Homo sapiens: one gene and its partners. The protein of the gene in region 1 purifies or fractionates together with the protein of each later gene. This does not show direct contact. Each region holds a gene or a part of one and is shown in the gene's direction. Other genes may lie near its edges. The genes, in order: SLC25A41, AIDA, GAP43, STON2, CSNK1G3, CTH and CTSH.

Region 1 (3,946 bases):
TGAGATGGAGTCTCGCTCTGTTGCCCAGGCTGCAGTGCAATGGCTCAATCTCGGCCCACTGCAACCTCTGTCTCCTGGGTTCAAGCAATTCTCCTGTCTCAGCCTCCAGAGTAGCTGAGATTACAGGGGCACACCACCAAACCTGGCTAATTTTTGTATTTTTAGGAGAGACTGGGTTTCACTATGTTAGTCAGGCTGGTCTCGAACTCCTGACCTCAGATGATCTGCCAACCTCGGCCTCCCAAAGTGCTGGGATTACAGGCGTCAGCCACCACATCAGGCCTAGCAACCTTATTTGTATCTGCAAACTTAATTCCCCTTTGCCATGTAACAAATGTAAGTCAGCCCAGGCTGCTATAAGGAAACACTAAAGAGCGGGGTCTTAAACTGCAGACATTTATTTCTGGAGGCTGGGAAATCCAAGGTTAAGGTGGCTGGCTAGCTCAGTTCCTGCTGAGGGATTTCTTCCTGCCATGCCTTCTTGCTGCGTCCTCCCATGGCAGACAGAGAGAGAGAAAGAGCTCTGGTTTGTCTTTTCCTTATAGGGAACTAATTCCATCTTGCAGGGGCCATCCTCATGAGTTCATCTAACCCTGAGGACCTCCCAAAGGCCCTGTCTCCAAATTCCAACCCACTGGGAAATAGGGCTTCAACATAAGAATTTTGCGGCCGGAAGCAGTGGCTCACGCCTGTAATCCCAGCACTTTGGGAGGCTGAGGTGGGCAGATCATGAGGTCAGGAGATCGAGACCATCCTGGCTAACACGGTGAAACCCCGTCTCTACTAAAAAATAAAAAAATTAGCTGGGCGTGGTGGCGGATGCCTGTAGTCCCAGCTACTCGGGAGGCTGAGGCAGGAGAATGGTGTGAACCCCAGAGGCGGAGCTTGCAGTGAGCCAAGATAGCGCCACTGCACTCCAGCCTGGGAGACTGAGCGAGACTCCGTCTCAAAAAAAACGATAATAATAATAATTTTGACAGGACACAATTCAATTTATAACGATAACATATTTATTGGTTTGGGGGATCAGGAGGTGGATACTTGGGGGAAGGGGGCCATCACGCTGCCCACCACACCTAGGAAGGTCACAGGGGCGTTTGTGACTTCATCCTCCTCTTGGTCCCCCACACAATCCTCCCACTAGACACTCCCGCATGGTAGCTGGAGCAGCAAACAACTGCTTAGGGATTTGAAGCCAGGTGTCCTAACTTCCTCCATGGGCGCTCAGCCTGGGGAACCTCAGAACACTTGCTCTAGGATCCAGACACTGTTTAGGAGGGTCAAGACCTTACTCATCAAAGCCCCGCCTCCCCCCCAACCTCCGCCTCCACCCCCATCCTGGAACCCTGGCTGTACACACGTGTATGGGTACGCGTTTGGCCACATGCATGACAACAACCTTGAACATCTCCCGTCACAGCAGGTGAGTTTAGGAAACACCAGTGTCCCGGCACCTCTGGTCAGGACTACAGGGAGAGGCCAGGCTACCCACGCCCTCTACAGGCCCACTCCCCTGCTAGCGGACCTAGAATTCCACCTTGAAGCAGGGTGGGGCAGGGAGGCAGGGCGCGATGGCTCCACACATGTAATCCCAGCACTTTGGGAGGTTGAGGTGGATGGGTCACTTGAGGACAGGAGTTCAAGACCAACCTGGCCAACATGCCGAAACCCTATCTCTACTAAAATTACAAAACTTAGCCAGGCATGGTGGTTGGCGCCTGTAGTACCAGCTACTCAGGAGGCTGAGGCAGGAGAATCGCTTGAACTCAGGAGGTAGAGGTTGCAGTGAGCCCAGATCTCATCACTGCACTCAAGCCAGAGCAACACAGCGAGATTCTGTCTCAAAAAATAAGAATAAATTAAGAGTCTAGATATAGTCCTAATTACATTTGTATTCCTCCTTGGATCCTCCATGAGTAACTTAGAGAGTCTATATTACATTGGCTGGGTGTGGTGGCTCACACCTGTAATCCCAGCACTTTGGGAGGCTGAGGCAGGTGGATCACCTGAGGTCAGGAGTTCAAGACCAGCCTGGCCAACATGGTGAAACCCTGCCTCTATTAAAATAATACAAAAATTTGCTCGGCACGTTGGCACTGTAATCCCAGCTACTGGGGAGGCTGAGGCAAGAGAATCACTTGAACCCAGGAGGCGGAGGTTGCAGTGAGCCGAGATCACACCATTGTCCCTACTTGGGAAGCTGAGACACGAGAATCGCTTGAACCAGGGGGACAGCGGTTGCAGTGAGCCAAGATCGCACCACTGTACTCCAGCTTGGGCGATAGAGTGAGACTCTGTCTAAAAAAAAACAAAAACAAAACAAAAAAAAACCAGGGGGGAGGGTTGAATCACTTGAGGTCAGGAGTTAGAGACCAGCCTGGCCAACATAGTGAAACCCATCTCTACTAAAAAAAAAAAAAAAAAAAAAAAAAAAAATTAGGTGTTGTGGTGCATGCCTATAATCCCAGCTACTCAGGAGGCTGCGGCAGGAACTGCTTGAACCTGGGAGGTGGAGGTTGCAACGAGCTGAGATTGTGCCACTGCACTCTAACCTGGGCAGCAGAGCAAGACTCCGTCTCGAAAAAAAAAAATGCAGACTTGGGGGAACAGGGTGGGTCTTTCACCAGGTGGGTGCCCTAGATGTGTGTCTGGGGAAGGTGCCCCAACCTGGCTGAGGATGAGGGAGGGCCGGGTCTGCCCTGCAGGTACTGGACACAGGAGAGCAGCTGATGGTCCCCGTGGAAGTCCTGGAAGTGGATAACAAGGAGGCCTTGTGGAAGTTTCTACTCTCAGGAGCTATGGCCGGGGCGGTGTCTCGCACGGGCACGGCACCTCTGGACAGAGCCAAGGTGTACATGCAGGTTTGTGTGGGTTGGGGGGAGGACGGGACCCAGCGCTGGAGCCACTGGGGAGAACGTGGGGTGAGGACAGATGGAGTTGACGTGGATGGAGTTCAGGATAGGAGTGCTGGCTGGAGTTGGGCTCTCCTGGACTAGCTGAGATTGAGGTTGTGGATGGTGATAGAGCTGGTGTGGACATGGCTTGGAGTCGAGTTTGAGGAGTTGAGAGAACTTGCCAGGGACAGGGACCAACGCTGGGCCAAGGTGGGGGTTGGAGGTCAGGGAATTGGGGATGGGGTCTTTGGACGAGTTTAAAGACAAGGTAGGGGCCAGGTGCAGTGGCTCATGCCTCTAATGCCAGCACTTTGGGAGGCCCAGGGGAGGTAGATCATCTGGGGTCAGGAGTTTGAGACCAGCCTGGCCAACATGGCGAAACCCTGTCTCTACTAAAAATACAAAAAAATTAGTCGGGCATGGTGGTGCGTGCCTGTAGTCCCAGCTACATAGGAGGCTGAGGCAGGAGAATTGCTTGAACCCAGGAGATGGAGGTTGCAGTGAGCCGAGATTGCATCACTGCACTCCAGCCTGGGCAACAGAGTGAGACTCTGTCTCAAAAAAGAAAGAAAAAAAAAAAAGGCAACATAGAACTGGAGCTACCTCAAGCAGGATATCTCACACCCATAGTCTCAGCTGCTCAGGAGGCTGAGGCAGGAGGATTGCTTGAGCCCAGGAGTTGGAGGCTGCAGTGAGCCATGATCATGCCACAAACTCCAGCCTGGGTGACAGAGCGAGATCCCTGGCTGAAAAAATAAACGGGTGCAGTGGCTCACTTTGGGAGGCCAAGGAGGGAGGATTACTTGAGCTTAGGAGTTTGAGACCAGCTGGGCAATATAGTCAGACCACATCTCTACAAAATAATAATTAATTAATTAATTAATTAAAAATTTAAAAAGGAGTCGGGCATGGTGACTCACACCTGTAATCCCAGCACTTTGGGAGGCCAAAGTGGGAAGATCGCTTGAGCCCAAGAGTTTGAGACCAGCCTGGGCAACATAGTAAGACCCCATCTATACAAAAAATTTTACAAAATTAGCCTGCCATGGTAG
Region 2 (3,500 bases), on another chromosome or scaffold:
GAGTTTCACCATGTTGGCCAGGCTGATCTCAAACTCCTGACCTCAGGTAATCCACCCACCTTGGCCTCCCAAAGTGCTGGGATTACAGGTGTAAGCCACCATGCCCGGCCAATTTTCAAAACATTCTTGAGTGAACTGGTCTTTGTTGAATAAACTTAGCCATTTCTCTGATACCTAGAACCAGTTTTCATTTTATTTGTGAGAATTTTGATAGCAGCACTTCAGTGAAGAAAGCCATGAGTTGACAGTGTCAGCGTTTTCTGTTTGACACCACAGTGTACAGCCCAGGGCAGTTCCTCAGAGGTACACGTGAGGACAGGGCGTGAAATCCAGCTTGGCCTTTGCTTGTTTGGGGACTTCACAGCAGAAACAGTTTTCTTGAGTACACCATTCTTTATAGACCTTACAAATGCTATAGCATGTCATTTATTGGTAAAATTTTTAGACTCAATAGAGAAGCTTTTTTTTTATAGTTTATCACAAAACCTCTTCAGGATATGAAAAGTCATCTCTTGTGTCCACTTATTGCGCGGTTTGGGAATAGAGCCTTTTAAATTTCTTATACTATATCTTGTGCTAAAAACGTCTTGTAATTTCACATGCAGGCATTATGAGATCCTTGCCCACTGTGTGACTTTTCTTCCTCTGGGCATTAAGCTCTGCTACTAAGTAATTTCCTTTTTGAGCCTTTTTTAAGTGAACATTACTTTAGAAAAAAAAAAAGCTTTACTCTATTTTAAATGGCCATTAGGATATCAAAATAATCGGTGTCTTTACTTATCAATGGTTGTGACTTGTAGTTGCGATTTCTCGATTTTGTTGGATCCATTGCTGCATTGATAAAGTGTTTTTCACAGATGAGGCAACTTGGAAATTATCCATCCAGGTACAACCATATTAATAAGTAGGTCTCATCATTAAATGGACTTTTTTGTTTTTCCCAGTGCACTAGTGCAGTGAAATGATTCAGAAGCTTGAAATTCATTGTTTTTACTTAGGGAGAATTGTCTCTATGCTTAGGCTTAGAACCTTCCTCTCCTAGCTCATACCTCTTCTTTAGAAATCACATTGAATTGAAAAATTTCCTCCAGTTTTCTTTGCTACAAGTAGAGCATGTTTGCTTCAGCTGTTGGTGCATAAGGGAAGGTTGGGGCAGGTAAAGCTGAAGAGGCTGACGTCAGACTGCTGTATAGAGCTCATCAGCTACCAGTGGCTTCCCCTGTCTCCTGAAAAAAAAAATACTAAATGGACCAAGTCAAGTGAACATAATCTTAACTGCTTACTGCCATATGAGGCTCAAAGACCTATAATAAAATTGCTATAGGGGCTGCATAGTCTCTTTCCATCACTGTGAACCTGCATTGCTCAGTGTACAAAGCCCATTGCAGGGGCTGCAGATGGTGTAGTATTATCCTCGTATTTTATTGTCTTTAGTGCATATTTAAAGGCAGTGCATTGATAGAAATCACTCTTTTGCGTGGAGCTCCTAGCGAGTTCAGGGACACCCTGGGATTCCACAGAACCCAGGTTGAGAAATCTTGATTTAGACAGTTGTAGCCATACAGAGCTTTTCATATTTAGAAGTGTGAGGCAGAAATAATGCATCCCTTCCCAAAGATGTCCACATCCCAATCCTCAGAATCTGTGCATATGTTTCTTACATTACACGGCAACAGAGACTTTGCAGATGTGATTATGTGAAGGACCTTGAGATGGGGAGGTCATTTCACAGCTCCTGTGTAGGCTCTATGGACAATGAAGAAATGGCCAAATGAGGTGTGGTGGTTACAAGCATGGAATCCCGTGCCAAACTGCTATATGATTGTGGGCAGATTACTTAACTTTTCTGTCTTAGTTTTCACTTCTGAAAAAATGGGACACCTTGTTATAGGGTGCTATAGCACCTGTGTTATAGGGTTGTTGGGAGGATTAAATGAGTTAGTACATGTAAAGGATTAGAACAGTGCCTGGCACACCCTGACATGTTCTGTAAAAGTTGGCTGTTTATTATTTATGCAGCTTTTCCATATGGAAGAACATTTATTATTTCTGATCCTCACTTTAGATCTAACAGCAAATGATCTAGCTGGAAACACGCAGTTTTTCATGGCTCATGTATGATTTCTTTTCTTACTTCAGTTACAGTCTTCAAGTTTTATAAATGTAGTTACTTATTCTCATATTACTCTATACAGTTGAATGTGTTCATTCTTCTTTTAGAAATCTTGCTTTTAATACATTGCCTTGATTTTTAATTATTGTATGTTTTTATCTTTGATACACAAATATGTTAACTTTTTCATCTAACCCTGGAATGGTGTGGTATTATCCTAGTATTTTATCTTCTTTCGTGCATATTATATAAGGCAGTACATTGATATATGTTTTCAGGCCACATGTTTATAGAGCATAATAACCTCTAGAACTGTAAAATTCATTTATCATTCAACAAATGATAAAAGAGTTCTAAAACAAAGATCTCTTTATTACTAGTGAAAACAATACAAAAATGAACAGTTACTCATCCCGTCTTTCAGGATGCTCACCATGTAAGACAGAGCCAAAAAAAGTACATCATCATGGTTAGAGGTGGACACAGTATATTATGAGTGAACGAAAAAAGGACTGACAGAGTTTAGCAAAGGTAATCTAGCCAGAACTGAGACTCAAAGGGAGTGTAGGAGTTGACTAGGCAGGGAGAGAGCACATTAGAAACCACTGAGAAATACACCTTTCTCTATTACCTGTCGTCTTAATCACATAGCTTCAGCTGTTCCTTAGTAAAGATAAAACTACTGAACCTTCATGGTGGAGATGAAATGTTTTATGTTCTACCTTGAATTAGGGAAGAACTGAATAAATTAAGTATCTTTCCAGCTTGGAATCACTGCCTCCATATTACATTGTTAGAAATATATTTAGTAGTTAGATTAAACCTTATTATATTCTCAGGCAAAAAAAAAGTTTGTTGGTAAGGAAGAAAGAAATGTCAGCCTCATTATTTCAACTAAAAGATCTAGACAATTACAGGTTATGAAACTGATTCACCTAAAGGTAGAAGAATTTTTAATGTTTACTTGGGAGAAAATAGTCTATCATAAAAAGAACTTGTCTCTTTTGTCTGTCAGAAAACACCATAATCAAAATCAAAATGACAAACGACTAATATTCTTAATATATAAAGAAAATTTTAAGTTGTGACAACAAAGACCCCAAACACATTAGAAAATTGGGCAAAAGACATGAACAGATAGTACACACACACACACACACACACACACACACACACACCCCAAGATATACAAATAGCTCTTAAATGTATTAGAAGATACTCAACTTTACATATGATAAAAGACATGCAGATGCCTTATATGGCAGTTCCCTGTTGCTGAGACAACAGGGAAATGGGCTCATTTATCACTGGTGGGAATAGAAAGTGGTAATAGTCCCTTTAAAGGAGAGTTCAGCAATAGCTCAGCAACAACAAAAATATACAATTT
Region 3 (2,237 bases), on another chromosome or scaffold:
CATGCTGAGTCCCATGAGTCCTCCTAGCAAATCACTGAACCTAGGGGTGGTCTTGGGGGACACTGACACAGGGAGTTGATTGTTTGGCAACACAAGTTGTTTCAGAGCAAATGAATTCTTTTTCCACAAGCTAGCATATTAGTAAACTATCAGGGAGCATAAAATCAGTTGACTGAGTTCTGTCGGGAAACAAAGGGAAAATTTTTCTTCAAAAAGACATGATATCCTCCCTGTTAAGCAAAGCAGTACTTTCCCTGTGGATAAGTGTATTCAGTTGGAATGTGCTTGGCTGCAAGAAACTGAAAACTATTATATTACAATGCTTTAAAGAGGCTAGTGACTTGTTTCTGAGGGAAAGATATCTAGGAGTGGTACAGTCACTCAGTGATGATTTTTTCTTTTTGCTCCACCATCCTTAGTGTATAGTTTTTGTCTTCATGGTCACAAGGCAGCTGCTACAGTGCCATGTATTGTTTGATGTCCAAGTGATCAGGAATAGGAGAATGTGAAGGGCAAAACCCAACTCTGCCCTCTCTAGGGACTTCAATTTCTATATAATTGACTAGCACTGTCCCACAGGAGCTGAAAATTCAACTACTTCACTTTTCAATACTGGAAATGAGTGGTAAGAAACTTGGACTAGATGATCGATGGTCCACATAAATTATCTGTCACAATTCTTCTGACACTAATAGAACAGCAATACAAGATTGTCGTTGATTCCCTATGTGAAGATCCTGTATGTGGATACCTTGATTGTAAGGCTGAGAGATTAAAGACCATAGTAACTTTTGTTAAGTGGTCTCCTTGTCACTCACATACCTTTGCTCCTGAGTTCTTCCATAGGTGCCACTGAACAGCTTCCTTGAGGTAAACTCTTCTGAACTTGTAACCTACATTAACTGGGATATTAATAATCTCTTTTAATCTTAATGCTCTTATGAAATGACATAAAAAGAAGAAATGCATTGCACTGTTGTATGAGCAGATAAGACAAAATACTAATTCTCTCCTTTTCCCCCCATCCTATCTTGTTTTCTTTCTCAGAAGCTGTAGATGAAACCAAACCTAAGGAAAGTGCCCGGCAGGACGAGGGTAAAGAAGAGGAACCTGAGGCTGACCAAGAACATGCCTGAACTCTAAGAAATGGCTTTCCACATCCCCACCCTCCCCTCTCCTGAGCCTGTCTCTCCCTACCCTCTTCTCAGCTCCACTCTGAAGTCCCTTCCTGTCCTGCTCACGTCTGTGAGTCTGTCCTTTCCCACCCACTAGCCCTCTTTCTCTCTGTGTGGCAAACATTTAAAAAAAAAAAAAAAAAGCAGGAAAGATCCCAAGTCAAACAGTGTGGCTTAAACATTTTTTGTTTCTTGGTGTTGTTATGGCAAGTTTTTGGTAATGATGATTCAATCATTTTGGGAAATTCTTGCACTGTATCCAAGTTATTTGATCTGGTGCGTGTGGCCCTGTGGGAGTCCACTTTCCTCTCTCTCTCTCTCTCTGTTCCAAGTGTGTGTGCAATGTTCCGTTCATCTGAGGAGTCCAAAATATCGAGTGAATTCAAAATCATTTTTGTTTTCCTCCTTTTCAATGTGATGGAATGAACAAAAAGGAAAAAATTCAAAAAACCCAGTTTGTTTTAAAAATAAATAAATAAAGCAAATGTGCCAATTAGCGTAAACTTGCGGCTCTAAGGCTCCTTTTTCAACCCGAATATTAATAAATCATGAGAGTAATCAAGGTCCAATGGCTCTGTGTTTCTGTTCTACCTTCTCATTAGTTGGTTGGACATGCTAGGGTCTTACATTTTCATCTTTTTCTTCTCTCAGTTTTACATCAGCAACCCTGATAAAGAAAACACAGATGAAGCCTAAGGCTCTGGTCAAGACCAATAGCTCCGGCCCTCGAGGGAGACATCTGTTGCAGGCCTGTCTCTTTGGCTTATGGGTGGCTATCTTTTAACTGTGCCTCTTCACATCTTCCCTTTATGCCTGTCTTTGTGTCCAAATTTCCCCATTTTGTAAAGATACTAGTGATACTGAGTTGGGCCCACCCTAATGACCTCACTTTAACTTAATTGCCTCTGTCAAAGCCTCATTTTTAAATGAGGTCACATTCTGAGGTACTGGAGCTTAAGGCTTCAACATATAAATTTGGGGGATAGGGCACAATTCAGCCCATAAGAGACACTAATTTATGACCAGTGTATCCAACATGGTGAAACCCTATCTTTACAAAAA
Region 4 (3,500 bases), on another chromosome or scaffold:
TCAAATTTAAAGACACTTGTTTAATTTGTATTATAACTCTAATGCTTCAAAACTGTTTAGGACTTGGCGTGATTTAAACTAACTTGGTTTGAAAAGGAATTTATTGTAAGAAAATGATCTTCAGTAGGGACAAAGGCCTTTTTTTCTCTTTTCATTTTTGGCTTAGAAGATGAGAAGGGCTGTTTTGAGGACAAGATTCCCAACAGAAGGGAATCCTTTGGTGGCAAGTGTAAACAGCTTTGGCAGAAAGCCGCCCTCCAAAGAAAAAGGACTTCAGCTTGTTTTAAACTACAGGGTGAGCTCCAAGACAAAAAGGATAACCCTGATGCCAGGGGTGGGCCAATAGAGATTGTTTGGGTGGAAACACTACATCACAAAGGCTCTCTAGAGCTGCCTCATTAGAAGTTGATGAGTTTTGAGATGTACCCCTTTCCCAGTTCTCTAGACAGGATCAATTACCATTCCAAGGAAGTGATTATATTTCACTCAGGACCACAATGTTCCTTTTAGACTTTGTTACCAAAATGATAAATAAAATATAAATACTGTAAGTGTAGGTTGTTTCCTGACCGTTTTCCCTTCGATTTTCAGAAAATTAATCACTTATACAAAACTGGATTCATGCTTAATTTGAAGGAGATTCTCATCTTTAATTTAAAAATGCTTTAGAATCCTTTTTAGTCACTGTAGATATAGAAAATGCTTTTCGCTCATTTTGTTTCTGGGGTGGGTATGGATATGTGTATATGTATATGCATACTCGTGTTTAGCCTACAGCCTACATTTTCTTTTCTTTTCTTTTTTTTTTTTTTTTGAGACGGAGTTTCGCTCTATCGCTCAGACTGGAGTGCAGTAGCGCCATCTCGGCTCACTGCAACCTCTGTCTCCCAGGTTCAAGCACTTCTCCTGCCTCCGCCTCCCGAATATCTAGGATTACAGGCTTGTGCCACCACGCCCAGCTAATTTTTGTATTTTTAGTAGAGACAGGGTTTCACCATTTTTGCCAGGCTGGTCTTGAACTCCTGACCTCAAGTGATCTGCCCGTCCCGGCCTCCCAAAGTGCTGCGATTACAGGCATGAGCCACCGTGCCCGGCCTAGCCTACATTTTCAAACTTACGTTTTCATTTGAGAGAATTGCTATCTGTTTGAATAAATTACTTGGAAAGATGGGTGACAAGCCAGCATCCCATCCTTGTATAATTATGTGCAATTATGTGCGGCATTGCTGATGGGTGTGGTTGGATGTGATATGCATGAAGATGTAGTGAGGTGGTCAGAAAACTCAGTCATTTGAGTATCCATTTCCCTTTGATTCCAAACAACTGGCCATAGAAACAGTGGGTAGGATGGTAGCAGAGATCCCCTATACCCATTCCTGCAGAGACGTAGAGAATGGAAGAGCTACTCTAAAGCAAAGTTTCTTTTCTCACTTATTTAATCAAAAAACCTTATTGAGTACCTACTATATGCACACATTTGTTGTCTGTGCTGTTCCTTCATCAGAATTCATTCCTCCTTGCTAAAAGCCTCATTTCCCCTCCCTTCCCACAGCCCCAGCAGATACCCACGGTCCTTAGGTTACTGAAAAAGTTTAGATCTTGCCCTCATCAAACCCAAGTCCTGTATCTCTTTCCTTGAAGGCCCTGCTAAAGTGGAGTTTTATTTGTAATAACCTTTTTATCATAAAAAATAAACTTCGAGATGGAAAAATATTTTAGAGAAAAAAAGGAGATTATATCATGAGCATTTTCTCCTGATATACTGCCTACTTGTAAACATTTTAGTGGGTGGGTATTATTTTATTGTAGGCTTCAATTTCTTAACACTCACCCAATTGTTGAATATTTAAAATATTTTTCCCTATTATAAATAATGCCAAAATGGACATCTCTGTTCTTCAAACTTGGTTCATAATTTAGATTTATTTTCTTAGGGTAGAATTACTAAGTCATTGTTTATTAACATGTGTTAAGATCCTTAATATAAATTGCCCAATCTCTTTTCAGAGCATCTGTTGCAACTTAGTTTCACTAAGCATCCACTTAGTGCTCCTATTATGGCACCTTTACCCTCATTGAGCACTAAAATCTTTCAAAATCTTCACTGATTTTTTTTTTTTCATTTTTCATTTTTGAGACAGAGTCTCGCTCTGTTGCCCAGGCTGGAGTGCAGTGGCACAATCTCCGCTGACTTCTATCTCTGCCTCCTGGGTTCAAGTGATTCTCCTGCCTCAGCCTCCCAAGCCGCTGGGATAACAGGTGCCTGCCACTACGCCCAGCTAATTTTTTTGTATTTTTAGTAGACATTGGGTTTCACCACGTTGGCCAGGCTGGTGCCGAATTCCTGACCTCGTGATTTGCCCACCTCGGCCTCCCAAAGTGCTGGGATTACAGGCATGAGCCACTGTGCCCGGCCATTTTTCTTATTACTAGTGAGATTCGATATTTTTCACATACTTACTAGACATTTTTTAGTTTCTCTTTCATGAGTTGTCTATGTTCTTTACTCAGACTTCTTTTGGGGTTTTTGTGTTTTTCTTATTCACATGTATGAACCTACTGAATATTAAGAAGGTTAACTGTTTGTCTTTAATATTTATTCATTATGTTTAGGCTAAAATCCCTCCAAGAATATTATTTATAATCATATTATCACTTACAGACGATAACTTGGTTTTTTTCAGTGAGATGAGCTTATATCATTTTATATAGGAGATGGCTTTCAATGTTTAAAAATTAAGAACACATTCCTCAAAGCTAAGTACAGAACACATCTATTCCAGAAGCTTTTATAAAATAAGGAAGAGTATATAAATTGCAAGAGACCTTGGTACTACCAGTCAATACTTCTGTATTGATATAGCCATTGGGTTCTTATTGCACTTAATGCGATAGCTCCTCTGGGGTGCTCATTACAGAATTGTGAGATCTATGCCCAGACTAAGCACTTGAAACAGATAATGAGCTGCTTTGGAATGTACTGGATTCCAGTTAAAATTCTAGTAATCCCTCATTCCTATACTTCAGTTTTCCTTACCTCTAGAGCCCCTGAACAGTAGCTCATATGTTCTCCTTTTCCTTTTAGACAATTCCTCCTCGCTTCAAGAAGATGAAGAAGTAGAGATGGAGGCCATCAGCTGGCAGGCCAGCAGTCCAGCCATGAATGGGCACCCTGCCCCTCCAGTGACCTCTGCTCGTTTTCCCAGCTGGGTCACCTTTGATGACAATGAAGTCAGCTGCCCTTTACCACCAGTCACCTCTCCTCTGAAGCCAAATACACCACCAAGTGCATCTGTGATCCCAGATGTACCTTATAATTCAATGGGATCATTTAAGAAGAGGGACCGTCCCAAGAGCACTTTGATGAACTTCTCCAAAGTTCAGAAGCTGGATATTTCCTCTTTAAACCGCACGCCTTCTGTAACTGAGGCTTCACCTTGGAGGGCAACCAACCCTTTCCTGAATGAGACTCTGCAGGATGTACAGCCCTCCCCTATCAA
Region 5 (2,186 bases), on another chromosome or scaffold:
TTAATTTTTTTCTTTTTTTTTTTTGGTGGGAGCAGATCAGTGATTTTTTCAGTTCATACCAGACCACAGCATTTTCCCACAGCAGCCTTGATGTGTTCATCTCCTCTTTTAGAGACAGGGTCTTGCCCTGTCACACAGACTGGGGTTCAGTGGCACAATCATAGATCAAACATTCCTCCTGCCTCAGCCTCTCAAGGAGATGGGGTAACAGGCGGGTGCCACCATGTCCAGTGCATGTGTGTGTGTGTGTGTGTGTGCGTATGTATGTATAATATAATATATGTGTGTACATTTATATATGTATGTGTGTATATATATATTTAGAGATATTTGTGTATGTGTATATGTAGTTAGAGAGAGAGAGATATTTAGAGATGGGGTCTTGCTGTATTGTCCAGGCTGGTCTTGAATTCTTAAACTCCTGAGCTCAAGCAATCCTCCTGCCTCGGCCTCTCAAAGTGCTGGGATTACAGGCATGAGCCACTGTGCCCAGCCAAGATTTTTTTTCACCTAGAAATAAAAGTCAGTATTATATTTTTTTGCATATACAGTTTTGACTTGTAAAATGGAATCACCTCAATTGTGCTACTTTAAATATTAAGCATAGTTTTTACCTTAACTAAACTTTCAATAAGCTTGACCTTCTTTAACCCTTAAAGAATTCAAAATTGCCAGTCTTGGTATTCTATATAATGTATTTTCTGTCTTTCACTTTTTTAATATGATGGAAAATGTTGACTAGTGTATATTGGAGTGTCTTTTTATTTTTGGAGTCTAAACTGATTATTGGTGAGAATAAACTCCCCAATGTTAGGATCATTATTGCCTTCCTAATGGCTTCAACAGTCACATATAAATATCAGGGAGAAAGGGTGAGAATGCATAGAATGAAATTCTTAATTACTCTTAGTGAAAAACCTTTTGAATTTAATGGCTCCTTTTTATGTTGCATAGAATGTCTTGCTATTCTTAAAAGGCATGTGAATGAAACATAATAGTAATAGCTCTGCCATATTTTCACTAATACGTATGCTTCATTGGTGTAATCACTGTTTATCTTGCACTAGCCTGTTGCTTTTTATGATCATTTAAGTTAAAGTGATACAGTCAACTTTGTGATATTTTAGTGCTTTTAAAATAAAAAGAGTGTTTCCCTCATCTGCAGGTGCTGCTGTTTTTTCAAACGAAGGAAAAGGAAAACCATACAGCGCCACAAATGACTCTGGACACAGACAGATCCTGGGGAGTTACTTACATGTTCATCTGCTGTCTTGTGATTAAAATCATCTCTGTAGTGACCACGTATATTTTCAAGGACTCACTCTTAGAAACAAAAATGTCATACTTTCATACTTCATTTTGTGGTTGTCTTACATTCTTTTTCTTTTTTTTTTTTTCTCTAATTTAACCTTTATGGAAGCTTTAAAGTTTTGTCAAAACATGAGTGCTTTGCCCATCAGTGAATGGAATGGACCAATGAGGTGGTATCAATGAATATAGTTCCATAGAACATTTTCCAGAAGTTCTTCTGTTGTAGAAAGCAGTACAGTATCTTAAGTGTCAACCAGTTATATACCTAATCTGGTTTTTTATAACTTCTGTAAGAGCATAATCAAACAGGAATTTTCTTTTCTCAGTGGATAATACAACAGAGAAAACAGAGTTGCCCAAATATTTAAAAGAAGTTATTCCTTGAGAAGTTCATATTTTGTGACATCTGCATTGATTTCAGTATTACTGATGGTACTGTTATTCATAAGTCATATTAACATTCTCTCCGTGAAATCATGGTACAGTCACTGCCCAGAGGTACTGAGGAAAAAGCAATATGGGTTCGGCAGATGGTGGTGGTAAAATGAATCTTAAGGAGTGTGGTAAATATGTGCTCCGCTTTTGTTGCATCACTATGTGAAGTACTGTGTTGCAGAAGTGGCAAAAGCGCTTATTTTTAAAAATGCAAAATATTTGTACAATGTAACTTTATGCTTCCAAATAATAATGTATGTTAGACAGCAAGAAATGAATACTTTAAAAAGTGATGTATGTTGGAGTTATAAAGAAATACACTAAGGAGAGGTAGTAAATGTGAACCTTGTTGCAGTGTATAAGGTGGAAGCCTAAAGAAATCTCACCGAAACTTACTGCTGAATGATTACATTCTCCCTTAAGCAGAAAACTTTGGATGT
Region 6 (3,500 bases), on another chromosome or scaffold:
CTTTCGGAGGCTGAGGCGGGTGGGTCATGAGGTCAGGAGATGAAGACCAACCTCCCCAACGTAGTGAAACCCCATCTCTACTAAAAAAGTACAAAAATTAGCTGTGTGTGGTGGCGTGCCTGTAGTCCCAGCTACTCTGGAAGCTGAGGCAGGAGAATCGCTTGAACCCGGGAGGTGGAGGTTGCGCCACTGCACTCCAGCCTGGCAACAGAGCGAGACTCCCTTTCAAAAAAAAAAAAGTCTGCTCAACTTGTCATAAACAAGGGCACATAGCAACAAAACTTTTAGAAGTTATTGTTGTTAATACTGGGAGCTTCTGAATCAGAAACAAAGGTGAAAGAGTGGTTGTGTTTTGTTATGTTATGTGAAGCAGAGGGAGAAAATTATAGGACTTCTAATTAATGTTCGAATCCTTGGTTCACAATCCGGTTTTGACACTCCCTAGGTACTATTGCATTTGGCTTCACTTTCCTCAAAGCCAGTCATAAGGATTAGTAGAATGACTGGATGAATATAGCTAGCAGGGTGCCATATATGTAAAAGGAGAATAATGCAATTTTTTTTTTTCCCGAGACAGAGTCTCGCTCTGTTGGCCAGCCTGGAGTGCAGTGGCACTATCTCGGCTCACTGCAACCTCCGCATCCTGGGCTCAAGCAATTCTCCTGCCTCAGCCTCCCGAGTAGCTGGGATTATAGGAATGCAAATTTTTAAAAAGTATTGTGTGGAGCTGTTTTGCCAGGAATTGCTCCCTATGCTTTGAGCCACTTTTGTAGAGCCAAGATGTGAATGAATGTTGAGCATTGGTAGGATGTGATCATAACTTCCTGTTGTATGCTAAATAGAACTTGAATCAGCCTGACAGATGGCTCACTCCTGTAATCTCAGCACTTTGGGAGACCAATGTGGGAAGATTGCTTGAGGTCAGGAGTTCAAGACCAGCCTGGGCAACATAGCTAGACTGCCTCTACAAAAAATAAAATTAAAATATTTGTTAGGCATGGTGACATGCACCTGTAGTCTTAGCTACTCAGGAGGCTGAGATCGGAGGATTGCTTAAGCCCAGGAGTTTGAGGCTGCAGTGAGCTATGATTGCCCCACCGTACTCTAGCCTGGGCAACAGAGTGAGGTCCTATCCTTAAAAAAAAAAACTTGTATCACTTAATCATTTATTTCTTAGGAAATGAAATACAGGTTAGAATTAGGTTTATTCTGTTGGCTCATGCAAGTCCCTTTTCCTAATGTTTCCAGATTAATGAAAAAAGGTGAGTCTAACATAATAAACATACTAATAATAAAAACTGTCATTTATTTAGTGATTAGCATGTGCCAGGAAACATGTAGTGAATTTGTGCATTATCTCATTTTATCTTCACAACAATTTTATGAACCAGATATCTGTATTTTATTCCCATTTTACAGATATTGAGATTGACTCTTGGAAATGTGAAGTAACTTACCTAGTGTCATGCAGCTCATAAGTGGCAGATACAGAATTCACATAGAGTTTGTTTGACTTCAGAGCATCTTGACTATAGCCACAGCACTGTTCTGCTTCTGTATTAAAGCAAGACATATCATGACTAAAGAATAGAAACTAATTATGGTAGGGTGAAACTATAGTTCTCTATGTTAGGACTCTGATAATAAACTGAAATCTCTTAGGATGAACTCGAACTTGTTTTTTTCAGGGTTTTGAATATAGCCGTTCTGGAAATCCCACTAGGAATTGCCTTGAAAAAGCAGTGGCAGCACTGGATGGGGCTAAGTACTGTAAGTAATTTCCATTTCACAGTCTAGAATCTATTTTTAAATGTATAGAGAAAACCATAGAGGCACAGAATGTGGAACTGAAAAGAAACAGATTTGCTAGTTCAAAATTCCTGTTCTACTGCCTTTGAATTCTTTGCCCAAGGTCCCTCAGTTGGTATAATATGCATATGTGTAATCATCAGGTAAAAATACGTATGAATAGAGGACAAATGAATAAAGGAAAAAATTCACACGAATACTACATTTATTAATACTACATTTATCATGTAGTATTCATGTGAAAACAATCTTCATCTGAAACTGTCAGTATAAATAAATAAATGGAAATTAAATTTAATAACACCACCTATTAGAATATAAAATCTTTTTTTGAGACAGGGTCTCTCATTCTGTTGCTCAGGCTGGAGTGCAGTGGCACAATCTCTGCTCATTGCAACCTCCTCCTCCAGGATTCAAGCGATTCTCCTGCCTCAGCCTCCTGAGTGGCTGGGATTGCAGGTGTGCACCACCACACCCTGCTAATTTTTTTTTTTTTTTTTTTTTGAGACAGAGTCTTGCTCTTGTCGCTCAGGCTGGAGTGCAATGGCAGGATCTCGGCTCACTGCAACCTCCGCCTCCTGGATTCAAGCAATTCTTCTCCTTCAGCCTCCCAAGTAGCTGGGATTACAGGTGCCTGCCACCACGCCCAGCTAATTTTTTGTATTTTTAGTAGAGATGGGGTTTCACCATGTTGGCCAGGCTGGTCTCGATCTCCTGACCTCGTGATCTCCCGCCTTGGACTCCCAAAGTGCTGGGATTACAGGAGTGGGCCACCACGCCCAGCCTTTTTTTTGTATTTTTAGTAGAGATGGGGCTATTTTGGCCAGGCTGGTCTGGAACTCTTGGGCTCAAGTGATCTGCCCACCTCGGCCTCCCAAAGTGCTGGGATTATAGATGTGAGCCACCACACTTGGCCTAAACTTGCTTATCCTCTGGTTTATTCACCTAATAATTTGTGCCTGAGAATAGCACTAAAGTTATTTTCAGTGGTCAATAACTCCTGATAATGTGCTGTCAGAGATTAGAGATTAACTCCCTAAACTTTTTTTTTTAATGAAGAGAGTCTTGTGTATTCATTGTGATTACACTTATCAGACAAATCTCAGGTCTGATTGCGAGTTTTGTTAAAATATTTACTGAATTGCATATTCATATAATTAACGTATGAATCATATCTTTGCTCTATTCTTTATGTTTGAAATTTCTCTTTTCTTTCTTTTTTTTTTGATATGGAGTCTCCCTCTGTCACCCAAGCTGGAGTGCAGTGGTGCAATCTTGGCTCACTGCAACCTCCACCTCCTGGGTTCAAGCGATTCTCCTGCCTCAGTCTCCCTCGTAGCTGGGATTACAGGCATGTGCCACCATGCCTGGCTAATTTTTGTATTTTTAGTAAACACAGAGTTTCACCCTGTTGGCCAGGCTGGTCACGAAATCTTGACCTCAAATGATCCACCTGCCTTGGGCTCCCAAAGTGCTGGGATTATAGGCATTAGCCACCACGCCTGCCCTGAAATTCCTTTAGTTTGCTATTTTTAAACTGTAGTTTAACTGGCAATAGGCCTTTTATCTCAGATATTTGTAAAGAATTATTTTCTTGAAGTGTTTCAGAGAAATATTATTACCAAGGCAAAATTGACTTAACACAAAAGTATCTGTCCACATTATATATTTTTTATTTTAAAGATATCTTA
Region 7 (3,500 bases), on another chromosome or scaffold:
ACTGGTCCCTACCCACCTTCCGTGGACTGGCGGAAAAAAGGAAATTTTGTCTCACCTGTGAAAAATCAGGTATGCCTGGCAATCTCCATCCTCTCCCTGCAAAACGGCCACACTCCCAGACAATACACCAGGAAGAACAACTCAAAAGGTCCACAAAACCACCACAAGCACATCCCTGCCTCTGTTTCCTCTCGGCATCTCTCCAGCCCTCTTCCTTTGAGGGGCCAGGGAGGTCAGCACTTCTCTAGGCTGCTCTGGAGGATGCAAAAGTTCCTCTTTATTGGGCTAAAGTTTACTCCCTTCCTTCCCCACGCCCCAGATTTTCCCATTGGTCCCAGGTCTCTCCTACAGAGCCATCCAAAACGTTATGTTCCCTGTGCCCATCTGGACACCAGAACCCCATGCATCTCCTCTTCCCGCCTCCATCTTCTCCGAGCCACCAGGGTCCAGCCCCTGCCCTGGCTGGCCGCCTCCCTCTGGTTAGTCCATGTGTCATGCATCAGCAAGCTTCTCATGGCAGGGGCTGGCCTCCGTGGCCCTTGCTGTGGGGCACAGAGGGCTTGGCAAGGTGAGAGGCCCTGCCTTCCTCCATGGGGGAGCAGTCTGGGGGCATCTCAGCACAGGCCCTGTCCCAGAGAGTCTGGACCCTGCCCCCGCTGTTCTCCCGGCCTGCTGCGGCCCCTCCCCTAGCAGGGAACCTGCCGTGGCCTTCTTCAGAAGGATGCCGACCTCTGGACTCTAGGAAATATGAGGTGAAGGTTTCCTTCCTGGAAACTCCTGGCTTTCCATCGAAATTCTCCATGAGAAATGTTTTTTCACTTTCCAAAAAGCCATCCATGCAGCACAGCTTTAAAGCCTCCCGGGCTTGCAGTGTTCCTGGAGCCTGCCAAGTGCTGGATGTTTAACTAGCATCAGGAGCCAAAGCAAACCTCCCCTTGCAGCAGGAGGTGGAGTAGAAGCCTGCCTTTGCCCCGTGACATTTTTAGACCCTCTGAGAACCACATGACAATTCAGAGCAACACGTAACCTAAACCTGCCCACCACTTGGACAGGTGGGAAAGAGAGGCCCACCAAGAATTTTCCAAGTCCTCCTGTTAACTGATCCTGGGCCATCAGGCAGGACGCAGCCGGCTGGGCTAAGGGAGCGGAATGAGGTGCTTCCTGACGCAGATGTGTGCCGTCTCTTACTGTGGCCGCTGTGTGGGGATAGAGACGGACAGCAGCCACAGCGTCCATCAGCTCAGCACCCTCCTTGAGAGTTTCTCACTTTACAGAGGGAGAGCCTGAGAGGGAGGGTGGTTTGCCTGAGGTCCAAGGTAAGTAAGTGACAAAGGGGACTCAAAACCAGGCCCCTGCCCCAAGTCGAGCACCCAAGGGTCAGCCGAGCTCCGCCTCCTTCAGCAGTGAGCTTAGTCTCCCCCGAAGTGGCCACGTCTGCCTCGTTGACTGTCTCATGGACCCTCTCACCAGGCCGTCCCTCCCTCCCCCAGCTGAGAGAGATATGTGAAGGGAAGAGATTGGGTGAGGCCAGTGTCAACCTAGGGTGATGACCTGGGAGGCAGGTAGGGGACTTAAGAGACATTTCAGAAGTAGAAGCTGGAAGACTGAACCAGCAAGGTGAGGAAACAGAGATGAACCTGAGAGAAATCCTTACAGCAGCCACCAGCATTGTGCCCACGGGGGTGACTGCCTGACCAGCAGAATCTGACTTAACCCTGCTAGCGCCCTGCAAGCAGGAACCCTCGCCATTCCCACTTTACAAGCAATGAAGCCAAGGCTTCGAGAGGGGAAGTGACTTGCCCAGGTCACCCACCTGGTGTGTGGCAGAGCTGGGATGTGAACCAGGCAGGCAGGCTGCAGCCCCCCACACCTAATCCTCATGTTATTCTGGAGGTGTTGTGAATAAGGGGGCTAGGCAGCGGCAATGAACTGTTAGAAGGTGGGGAAATGGGTGGATGGGGCGGGTCCCCCAGAGTCTGGGGTGTCAGGGGTGTCTGGGTGGGGTTGTCTGGCAGTTAGTTGGATGTCTGAGCCTAAGTGGAGGTCAGCACTGGGCTAGGGTTTGGGGAGCTGTTAGTTTAACAGGACTGGGCAGAAGAGACTGGAGGTGGAAAGGTGAGAGAAGGTTCTAAAAACAGAACTTTGGGGCATCCTTCTGCAGGGAACCAGTAGGGAAAAGAGGAGCCAGTGAAGATCGAGAAGGAAGAGAGCCAGAAGACTGCAGAATGGGGTGGGGGACTCCAGGCCCTGGCAGAATGGTGGGGATTGGCCACCAAGAGGTGGTGATTGGGAGTCCACAGGCACTGGTCAGAGGCCACCTGCTGCTCCTGCTCCTTTGCAAGCCTCTCAGGACTTGCGAGGCTCAGAATGAATGGATCTGGAACAGGGCTTGCGAGCCTCAGAATGAATGGATCTGGAACAGGGCCTGCGAGGCTCAGAATGAATGGATCTGGAACAGGGCTTGGTAAACTGCCAAGGCACCTGGGGACTCGGGAGCTCTGGCAGGGTCAGCAGAGGAAGGCAGAAGGCAGGGCTGTCTCACGGCGTCCCCATCACTGATGTCCTCTGCTCTCCCCTGGCCTTTCCAGGGTGCCTGCGGCAGTTGCTGGACTTTCTCCACCACTGGGGCCCTGGAGTCTGCGATCGCCATCGCAACCGGAAAGATGCTGTCCTTGGTAAGAAATCAGCCACAGGCGACCCCCTGCGGAGGACACCCCATCCTGATGTGGGCCAGGCCTGGGCCTTTGGTTTCCCTGGAGCATTGGCTAAGGGTGCTGTTTCAGGTGGACCCAGATGCCCCAGCCTTGTGGACATCTGGCATGAGAATCTCAATTGATGCTTTTCCCGGGAAGGATCTGAGTTTATTAAGGAACCGGCCCAAGGGCTCATTCCTAGATGGATCTGGGTGGTCCTTAGCTTGACAGCCTGGAGCCTTCCCGGCGGAGGGGTTCAGAAAGGCGGAGCCTGCCTGGTGGGTAGCCAACTAGGAGCTACACCCTTCCCAGCAGCCTCAGTTGTCTTCATGAGGGAAGAGCCGGGACCTATGCATCCATCCCCTCGCCCACAAGAGACGGATGATGCCCCTGAAGGAACTATCCTAGCCCCTGCCTCTGTGGAGAAAGGAGGGACAGTGCACAGCCGGCCTGGTGATGCCATGAGGACCCTGGGTTGTGGACAGGTGGGGGTAGGGTCTCTGGCTGGGCCTGTTTCCCCCATCCTATACACCGCTGTGGGACCCCACACTCTGCATCGTATGGGCACACCTACGGGGCAGGGGTTTGGACCCAACAGCCCTTGCCCCCTCTCACCTTCCCTGGCTGCCCCTGCTTACTGAGCCCCTCCCGACATGTGCCAGCTGCTGGGCTGGCACTGCAGGACATACAGCAACTGTCCCTGCCCTTGGGGAGTTTATAATTTGGTCACCTTGACACAGCACTGACGGGGCCTCAGATGTGGCTCAGCCAGGGAGGCTTAGCGCCTCACGCCAAAGCCTTGACGGC

Evidence for each region.
Region 2: the proteins of SLC25A41 (region 1) and AIDA purify together in Homo sapiens (affinity purification with mass spectrometry; 3 studies listed by BioGRID and IntAct, with this or other methods). This does not show direct contact.
Region 3: the proteins of SLC25A41 (region 1) and GAP43 purify together in Homo sapiens (affinity purification with mass spectrometry; 3 studies listed by BioGRID and IntAct, with this or other methods). This does not show direct contact.
Region 4: the proteins of SLC25A41 (region 1) and STON2 purify together in Homo sapiens (affinity purification with mass spectrometry; 3 studies listed by BioGRID and IntAct, with this or other methods). This does not show direct contact.
Region 5: the proteins of SLC25A41 (region 1) and CSNK1G3 purify together in Homo sapiens (affinity purification with mass spectrometry; 3 studies listed by BioGRID and IntAct, with this or other methods). This does not show direct contact.
Region 6: the proteins of SLC25A41 (region 1) and CTH purify together in Homo sapiens (affinity purification with mass spectrometry; 3 studies listed by BioGRID and IntAct, with this or other methods). This does not show direct contact.
Region 7: the proteins of SLC25A41 (region 1) and CTSH purify together in Homo sapiens (affinity purification with mass spectrometry; 3 studies listed by BioGRID and IntAct, with this or other methods). This does not show direct contact.

Annotation. Positions count from the first base shown.
Region 1 is NC_000019.10:6,430,964-6,434,909, reverse strand, and holds the start of SLC25A41 (mitochondrial carrier protein SCaMC-3L), read left to right. Parts: upstream 1-1,146; 5' UTR 1,147-1,216; coding exon 1,217-1,423; intron 1,424-2,705; coding exon 2,706-2,861; intron 2,862-3,946. UniProt on the Homo sapiens protein: Calcium-independent ATP-Mg/Pi exchanger that catalyzes the electroneutral exchange of Mg-ATP or free ADP against an hydrogenphosphate and participates in the net transport of adenine nucleotides across the mitochondria inner membrane.
Region 2 is NC_000001.11:222,677,992-222,681,491, reverse strand, and holds part of AIDA (axin interactor, dorsalization-associated protein), read left to right. Parts: intron 1-3,500. UniProt on the Homo sapiens protein: Acts as a ventralizing factor during embryogenesis. Inhibits axin-mediated JNK activation by binding axin and disrupting axin homodimerization. This in turn antagonizes a Wnt/beta-catenin-independent dorsalization pathway activated by AXIN/JNK-signaling.
Region 3 is NC_000003.12:115,719,747-115,721,983, forward strand, and holds the end of GAP43 (neuromodulin), read left to right. Parts: intron 1-1,047; coding exon 1,048-1,136; 3' UTR 1,137-1,737; downstream 1,738-2,237. UniProt on the Homo sapiens protein: This protein is associated with nerve growth. It is a major component of the motile 'growth cones' that form the tips of elongating axons. Plays a role in axonal and dendritic filopodia induction.
Region 4 is NC_000014.9:81,278,325-81,281,824, reverse strand, and holds part of STON2 (stonin-2), read left to right. Parts: intron 1-3,085; coding exon 3,086-3,500. UniProt on the Homo sapiens protein: Adapter protein involved in endocytic machinery. Involved in the synaptic vesicle recycling. May facilitate clathrin-coated vesicle uncoating.
Region 5 is NC_000005.10:123,613,177-123,615,362, forward strand, and holds part of CSNK1G3 (casein kinase I isoform gamma-3), read left to right. Parts: intron 1-1,165; coding exon 1,166-1,220; 3' UTR 1,221-2,186. UniProt on the Homo sapiens protein: Serine/threonine-protein kinase. Casein kinases are operationally defined by their preferential utilization of acidic proteins such as caseins as substrates. It can phosphorylate a large number of proteins. Participates in Wnt signaling.
Region 6 is NC_000001.11:70,414,268-70,417,767, forward strand, and holds part of CTH (cystathionine gamma-lyase), read left to right. Parts: intron 1-1,688; coding exon 1,689-1,770; intron 1,771-3,500. UniProt on the Homo sapiens protein: Catalyzes the last step in the trans-sulfuration pathway from L-methionine to L-cysteine in a pyridoxal-5'-phosphate (PLP)-dependent manner, which consists on cleaving the L,L-cystathionine molecule into L-cysteine, ammonia and 2-oxobutanoate.
Region 7 is NC_000015.10:78,931,547-78,935,046, reverse strand, and holds part of CTSH (pro-cathepsin H isoform a preproprotein), read left to right. Parts: coding exon 1-69; intron 70-2,588; coding exon 2,589-2,675; intron 2,676-3,005; exon of another isoform or gene 3,006-3,450; coding exon of another isoform or gene 3,451-3,500. UniProt on the Homo sapiens protein: Important for the overall degradation of proteins in lysosomes.